Linked DNA regions of Homo sapiens. The protein of the gene in region 1 purifies or fractionates together with the protein of each later gene. This does not show direct contact. Each region holds a gene or a part of one and is shown on either strand. Other genes may lie near its edges.

Region 1 (4,271 bases):
GGTCAGGAGTTCGAGACCAGCCTGACCAACATAGAGAAACTCCATCTCTACCAAAAATACAAAATTAGCTGGGTGGAGGCTGAGGCAAAAGAATCACTGGAACCCGGGAGGCAGAGGTTGCGGTGAGCCCAGATCACGCCACTGCACCCCAGCCTGGGCAATAAGAGTGAAACTCCATCTCAAAAAACAAAACAAAACAAAACACCTTTTAAAATCTATTCTTTTTTTTTTTACTGAACATTAACAAAAGTTTATTTATGTTTCAATTTAGAAATTCATATGTTCCATAGTGAAACCCCGTCTCTACTAAAAATACAAGAAATTAGCCAGGCGTGGTGGTGGGTGCCTGTAGTCCCAGCTACTTGGGAGGCTGAGGCAGGGGAATGGCGTGAACTCGGGAGGCAGAGCTTGCAGTGAGCCAAGATCATGCCACTGCAGTCCAGCCTGGGCGACAGAGTGAGACTCTGACTCAAAAAAAAAAAAAAAAAAAGAAATTCATCTGTTCCCCCCACCCCCATCTGAAACTAAATATGGAAAAAGAAACAAAGACTTAATAAAGAAACTTTCTGTTAAATGACAAGCAAAGCAATGATGAAAGCCTAAAATACATCTGTGTTTAGGATGCAAAGTAAAAATAGCTTTTTTTTTTTTTTTTTTTGAGACAAGGCCTCACTCTTGCCCAGGCTGGAGTGCAGTGGCATGATCTCGGCTCACTGCAGCTTCCTCCTCTCAGGCTCAGGTGATCCTCCCACCTCAGTCTTCCGAGTAGCTGGGATTAAGGCGCACGACACCATGCCCAGCTAATTTTTATATTTTTTGTAGAGACAGGGTTTCACCATGTTGCCTAGGCTGGTCTCAAATTCCTGGACTCAAGTGATACGGCTCCCTCAGCCTCCCAAAGTGCTGGGCTTACCGGCATGAGCCACTGCACTGGGCCAGATTGTTCTTTCAGTCTAGGCATGCCCCCTTCTAGCTTCTGTTCTAACACACTCATCGGCTTGGAGAGGGAAGTGAATGGCAGACTGTCAGTCCCGCGAAGTCTTCTGAGATTATCTGGTTCAACATGTTACATGTTGTGTGTGGTGAAACTGAGGCTCAGGAGTGCAAATGGGCTTATCCAAGGTCATACGGGGAACTAGAGGCCCCAGACCTCCAGCCTGGGCCTTAGGCATCTGGCCAATGGCCCACAGTCCCAAGGCCAGGCTGCCAGAAGGACAAGGAGGTAGAAAGGAATTGCAACCAGAATCTATGGTGTATGGTTAATACGTGTTACATGCTAACTGCAATGAGGTCTTGAATGCCGAGTTGCTCACAGACTCACCCAGCAGCAGCTCGGCCTGGAGTGACAGGTGAGAGGGAGCAAAGGGCAGCTGGCGTGGGCATGGAGCTGGCTGGGTGTGCCCCAGGCCTCTCCCTCTCATCTCTAGGCCTCACCTATCAGCGCTTCCTTCCTGGGCAGGGCTGAGGATTCACTCACTGCCCACGGCCGGCTGAGCAGGGACAGGAGAATGAGAGGCCTCCGCTGGCGTTACACTCGGCTGGTAAGGGTTCCAACTCCGTCTGTGGTGCAGGTTGGGAGGTGAAAGGAGGTGAGGTCTCTGGCAGGGTGGGGCCTGGGCTAGGGTTGGATGCGGGCAGTGACTTGTTCCCCTCTCAAGTCCCTCCCTGGCAGGCCTGTGGTTTGGAGCAAGGACTGACTCAGGAACATGGGGTCTTAACACCCCTGCTCCAAGGTTCTCAAGGGGGACAGACCGATGTCTCTGTCCCTTCCTCCCTGGAGTGGGTGCTGGATGGAGCTCTGTTCAGAGCCACACACAGCTAGACCTGCCTCAGGCCTGAGCCTGGAGAACAGAGCGGGGCAGGAGAGGGGGTCCTGTCCATCTCTCAGCCCTTGAGAGGTCTCTTCTTCCTGGGAAAAGCCTGCAAGGTCATTGTGTGGAGGCACACACATACACATACATATAACATATACACACTCACACGCATACACATGCAAACACACACACTCACACACTCAAACACACTCAAATGCACTCATACACACTCAAATGCACTCACACACTCAAACACACATACAGACACACACACATTCAAACACACACACTCACACACACACTCTGGTACAGAGTGGAAGCTCGGATGAATGAATGAGTGAATAATGATGCCCCTTATGGATGTAGATATTTACACCATCACAACTCACACAAACACATTGATATATAAACACAAATTTACACTCAATACCTCCACACATTGATGTGCCTACACAACTCTATTCCAAGCCAACACACAATTCGCACAGACAAACACATTTTACATGAACCTACATGTATGATCCCACATATGACTGCATGCATCATTTCACGGGCTTCATGGGGAAACCTTTGGGCTTCATTTTCTTCCTTTGGAAAATGCTGATAAGAAGAAATACACAGAAGGCCAGGCGCGGTGGCTCACGCCTGTAATCCCAGCACTTTGGGAGGCCAGGTGGATCATCTGAGGTCAGGAGTTCGAGACCAGCCTGGCCAACAGGAGGAACCCGTGTCTCTACTAAAAATACAAAAATTAGCCAGGCATGGTGGTGGGCACCTGTCATCCCAGCTATTTGGGAGGCTGAGACAAGAGAATTGCTTTAACCTGGGAGCCAGAGGTCGCAGTGAGCTGACATTGCACCTCTGAACTCCAGCCTGGGTGACAGAGCAAGACCCTGTCTCAAAAAAAAAAAAAAAAGGAAAAAGAAAAAAGAAGAAGAAACACACAGAGATCACAGACAGTGCACACTGAACACAGGCCTGGGCAAGGATGGGTTTTTTGTTGTTATTATTTAATGTACAAACACACACAATTGAAGCTCCCAGGGCTATGCCACCACCTGCCTTCCCCTCTGCTCCCAAGCTTAGAACTTGATCCCTGCCACCCACCCAGGACCATGGCAAACAGACCGACAAGTCGCACGGCCCACGGCCCCATCTGAGCCTTGTGGGGTGCTGGCGGGGGTGGGGGGACTGTGCTCCAGCCCTCAGCTGGCAGGGGCCAGGGAGGAAGCAGGCTGGCGGCAGGGGCAGCGTCCTGTCTGTCGTGGAAACCCCCAACTACCCTGGGCTGGGCTGGGGGTTACAGGCACATGGGCAGGGAGTGATGAGGTGGCCCGAGGAGGCTCTTGGGCTCAGGAGATGGTAGAAGCTGGGACCTCCTGTCCCTGGACACACCAGGCCACTTTGTGTTTTTGCAGCCCAGCCAGGTGGAGGACACCCTGTCTGGGGAGGAGGGTAACGAAGAGGAAGAGGAGGAGGAGGCAGCTCCAGACCCAGCTGCTGCTCCTGAGGATCCCACGGTGCCCCAGCTGACAGAAGCCAGCCAGGTTTTGAGTGCCTCAGAGATTCGGCAGGTCTGGGCATTGCCCATGGCACAAGAATTTCAGCCCTAAACCTAAGAGTCTCACCCTCCTGCCCTACACCAGCCACGCCCAGGGGCACCTAGAGTCACTCTTGCTCTGTTCTCATCATGCGTTACCTCCGGCAAATTGCTTCTTCTCTCGGGGCTTTGCTTTCCCTTCTTGTAAAATCATCCAGTGTTGCTAGCACCTCCCTCTACACTGGGCCAGGAGGTTAAGGAGGTAAAGAAAGAGGCTAGGACGGGCGCGGTGGCTCACGCCTGTAATCCCAGCACTTTGGGAGGCGAAGGCAGGGGGATCGCTTGAGGCCAGGAGCTGGAGACGAGCCTGGCCAACATGGCAAAACCCTGTCTCTACTAAAAATACAAAAATTAGCCGGGTGTGGTGGTGTGCACCTGTAGTCTCAGCTACTCGGGAGGCTGAGGCACAAGATTTGCTTGAACCCAGCAGGCGGAGGTTGCAGTGAGCTGAGATTGTGTCACTCTGCTCCAGCCTGGGTGACAGAGTGAGACTCTGTCTCAAAAGAAAAAAAGGAAAGAAACTAATTCCTACCTAGAACCAGCCCTTGGGAACTGAGGCCAAAGCTGGAGAGGGGTGGGCGGATGAGACGGAGGATCAGGAGGAGGGTTCAGCATCTTTCCTATTCTCTAGCCTCTGGGGGCAAGGGTGACCAAGCAGAAAGAGTCCTGAGAGTCCTGACCTGGGTTCAAATCCTGTCTCTACCATTCACTACCCATGCGAGCTTTGGGCTAGTTGTTCCACCCTCCCTGGGCCTCAGTTTCCTCATCTATAAGATGGGAATAACAACCCCTATCTCCGAGGGCTATGGCTGATGGCATGAAAGTCCCTAGAAACAGCAAACTGCTCTATCGCCTGT
Region 2 (3,500 bases), on another chromosome or scaffold:
AAATAAAGTGTTCTTTTCAGAGCATTAGAGCCTGGGAAACATGGCAAAGTTGTGTATCCTTTTTTAGTTTAGTTCTTGGTTCCAGCTGAATAATTTGAACATTAAGGGATTCTGATTCTTCACTGTGGAAGTGGGCTCCTGAAAAGTAATTTGCAACTTGAATATAAACTTAATTTTTTTATTTTTTATTTTTATTTTTGAAATGGATTCTTGTTCTGTTGCCCAGGCTGGAGTGCAGTGGCATGATCTCTACTCACTACAACCTCTGCCTCCCCGGTTCAAGCCATTCTCCTGCCTCAGCCTCCTGAGTAGCTGGGATTACAGACGTGCACCACCATGCCCGGCTAATTTTTTGTATTTTTAGTAGAGATGGGGTTTCTCCATGTTGGCCAGGCTGGTCTTGAACTCCTGACCTCAGGTGATCCACCCACCTTGGCCTCCCAAAATGCTGGGATTACAGGCATGAGCCACCATGCCCATGCCATATAAATTTTAAACCTAGCAGCTTCTGTGACATTTTGAGCTTGTTCCATCTAGTTTGGGATGATTCACGCAGAAAATATTGCACAATCAGAAGTCCCCCCATTCCCTGAAATGGACCAGTTCTCCAACAAAGCTTGTTTCTTGGAATAGTGAGCTGGGGGTGTTGGGAGAGTGGAGGAGGATGCATCTGCAAAGGATGAATTTTGACTCTGAGGTGTGCACGTGTCATGGTGAATGAATATTCTCCAGGTGGGGAGAGCAAATTGGTGCATGTAAGCTCTGGTAGTAGCATTTCCATTTAATAGTGGAGCACCATTACTCAAACTTGGCTTCATGTGAATGCCTGTGTTCTAGTGTAGTCAGAAAGGAATTCTGGATTAAATATTTATTTGCCATGTACAGAGAAAACTGTAGTGAGAGCTAGTTATAGGAGTGTTAAATGTCTTCATTGCAGAGTAAAGATTGTGATCAGTTTGGAAATACTTGGGTTACTTATTACACATAACTCAGTAATCTCAGACATTTATGTAGTGCTTACCATGTACTGGACACTCTTTAACGTGCTTTCATGTATTAATGTATATTACAACCCTATGAGGAAAATACCATTAATACTTCTGTTTTAAAAATGAAGAAACCGTGATATTCAGATGATGCATGACTTGCCCAAGGTCATAGCTGGTAAGTGATGGAGGCAGAATTCAAACCCAGGCAGCCCAGCTCCACTGTCCACACTCCATCCACTACTTTGCTCTCTCTTCATTTTGTCCTTTGCAAGGTCGTGGGTGTACAAAGTGGAAAACTTCTGTCCTGACTCACCTGGAATATCCAGTTTACAGATGTGCACAAACCCAGTTGCACTAGAATCACCCTGCCATATGCCAACTGCCCCAGTGGAAACGCAGCAGCTTCCTGGCAGCACAGACGTGGGAACACTCAAGCCTGCTGCTAGGGCAAGGGAAGGGGTCACGGAAGTGCAATACTGAAGAATGAGCAGTGATGCTCTGCTAGATAAATCTGGGGGAGGCTGCTGGAGGTAGTGGGATTAACATGTATAGGACAGAATGGCCGGACAGAACCAGGGGAGGACGGGTGGTTCATCAGTCACTAAGGATGCTCCCCCTCTTCTTGGACAATTCAGAAAGTGCCTTGACAAAATACTTTGATCATGAACTGGCTGCTAAGTAAGTCATTATTCAGAGAAACAAGCAAAGCTATTCAGTTCAAAATCCTGTCCTGCTCAAGTGAATCCTGCATTCCCCATCCACACGCACTCAACAACAACAAAAGGACTAGAAGGATATGTGTCACTGGCAACACTGATTTCTCTGAATGGTGCCCTTATTAGTGGTTTTAGCTTTCCTTTAATTACTTTGCAGTTTTGGAATTTTCTGCAGTGTAGGTATTCATTTTATAATTAATTCAAAGTTAAAAATTACTTTATGACCAAAGCCAGTTACTTTTAGCTATGGTATGCCTCGCTGTGTAGTCTTTTCAGTGAATTCATCTCAAGGCAACTAGACTGAACTAGACTGAACTAATCATAGATAAACTGCAGGGATTAAAGTTTACACAAAATTGCACATTGCTTGTGGAAGAGAGAGGAGAAACTAAACCCTCCAATGTTCACATTATTCAACTAGAACTGAGGAGATGAGTTGTCAGAATGATGGACTTGTGCCAGCTGAATGTTCCAGAGTGATTTCTACTAAATGGTTAATGGAGGGCAGTGAGCGGAGGGAGGGAGCATTGTGTAATGCAGCTGCAGGTGTTGGCTTTGTCACCCTAGTTGGGTTGCGCACTCTCCTGAACTGACCCCAGGGGCAACTAGGCCGTGGCAGCTGTTCCCCAGGCCGAGGCCACGACTTGTCTTTAGCCAGATGATGCCCATTGCCAGGTCCTGCCTGTAGGCCCCGCAGTCTGTGACAAGGCTTTCCTTTGGCCATTCCCGACTCATTCAATTCCCAGCTTATAGGAATTATTATTTCTTCTTTAGGATGATTCCAATAAATTTCCATTAAATGACTGTAACAGTAAAGATTAGCTAAATGAGAGAAACAAAGGCTGTAATGAGCTTGCTGTAGCAAGGGAGTCAGACTTGCATATTGGCAGAGGAGAGGAAAGCTTTATTGTGGAAAAAAGGGAAGCCTTTAGGTGTGTTCTGATTGGAGGTTGTTTACAAGGGAAGCTGTCTGAGGATTTACTAGAAGTCGGGCAACTGATGTGATTGGTTATGGGTACATGTTTGGCTTAGCCTGGTTGGTCCTATGTTGGAAGTGGGACAAAAATTAGGGAAGCTATCAGTTATTAATCGAGTTCTGGCCATTTGGGGCCAATTGTTAGGGAAGTTGTTGTTCGGTTTCCTGGATTGTCACTAGAGATAGCAATCTGGCTTTCTCTGTAAGTCTAACTTGTAGCAGGCTGGCTTCCTTGATTGTTTATTCTAAGTAAGCGGGTTAGTTTCCTGGACAGGTGTGGGTGAAAGTTCTATTTTTAAATATGGTCTGGTAATTGTCTATTTGTATATGTAGTCCCTCACAGCAGAATCTGTTTTGTCCATATATATATATATATATACTTTTTTTTTATGGTGAAAAGATATATATATATTTAGAATTAGGCAGCTGGACTCAGTTTAGATGATCCCAATTTTGTTGGCAACATCCAAAGCATCATAATCAGGAGCCAGTCGAACATATACCTTCTTCTCTCCATCAGGCCGAATCAGGGTGTTGCCCTTGGCCACATCATTGTCATAGAGCTTCTTCACAGCCTGTTTAATCTGGTGCTTGTTGACTTTAACATCCACAATGAACACAAGTGTGTTGTTGTCTTCCATCTTCTTCATGGCGACTCAGTGGTCAGCGTAAACTTGATGATAGCATAGTGGTCAAGCTTGTTTCTCCTGGGGGCGCTCTTCCGAGGATATTTGGGCTGTCTCTGGAGTCGCAGGGTCTTGGACCGCCGGAAGGTGGGTGATGTGCGGATCTTCTTTTTTTTTGTGGCTGTGGACACCT

What was found.
Region 2: the proteins of TLDC2 (region 1) and GLDC purify together in Homo sapiens (affinity purification with mass spectrometry; one large-scale study listed by BioGRID and IntAct). This does not show direct contact.

The regions. Positions count from the first base shown.
Region 1 is NC_000020.11:36,874,667-36,878,937, forward strand, and holds the start of TLDC2 (TLD domain-containing protein 2), read left to right. Parts: upstream 1-1,471; 5' UTR 1,472-1,508; coding exon 1,509-1,541; intron 1,542-3,232; coding exon 3,233-3,388; intron 3,389-4,271.
Region 2 is NC_000009.12:6,639,230-6,642,729, reverse strand, and holds part of GLDC (glycine dehydrogenase (decarboxylating), mitochondrial precursor), read left to right. Parts: intron 1-3,065; exon of another isoform or gene 3,066-3,500. UniProt on the Homo sapiens protein: The glycine cleavage system catalyzes the degradation of glycine.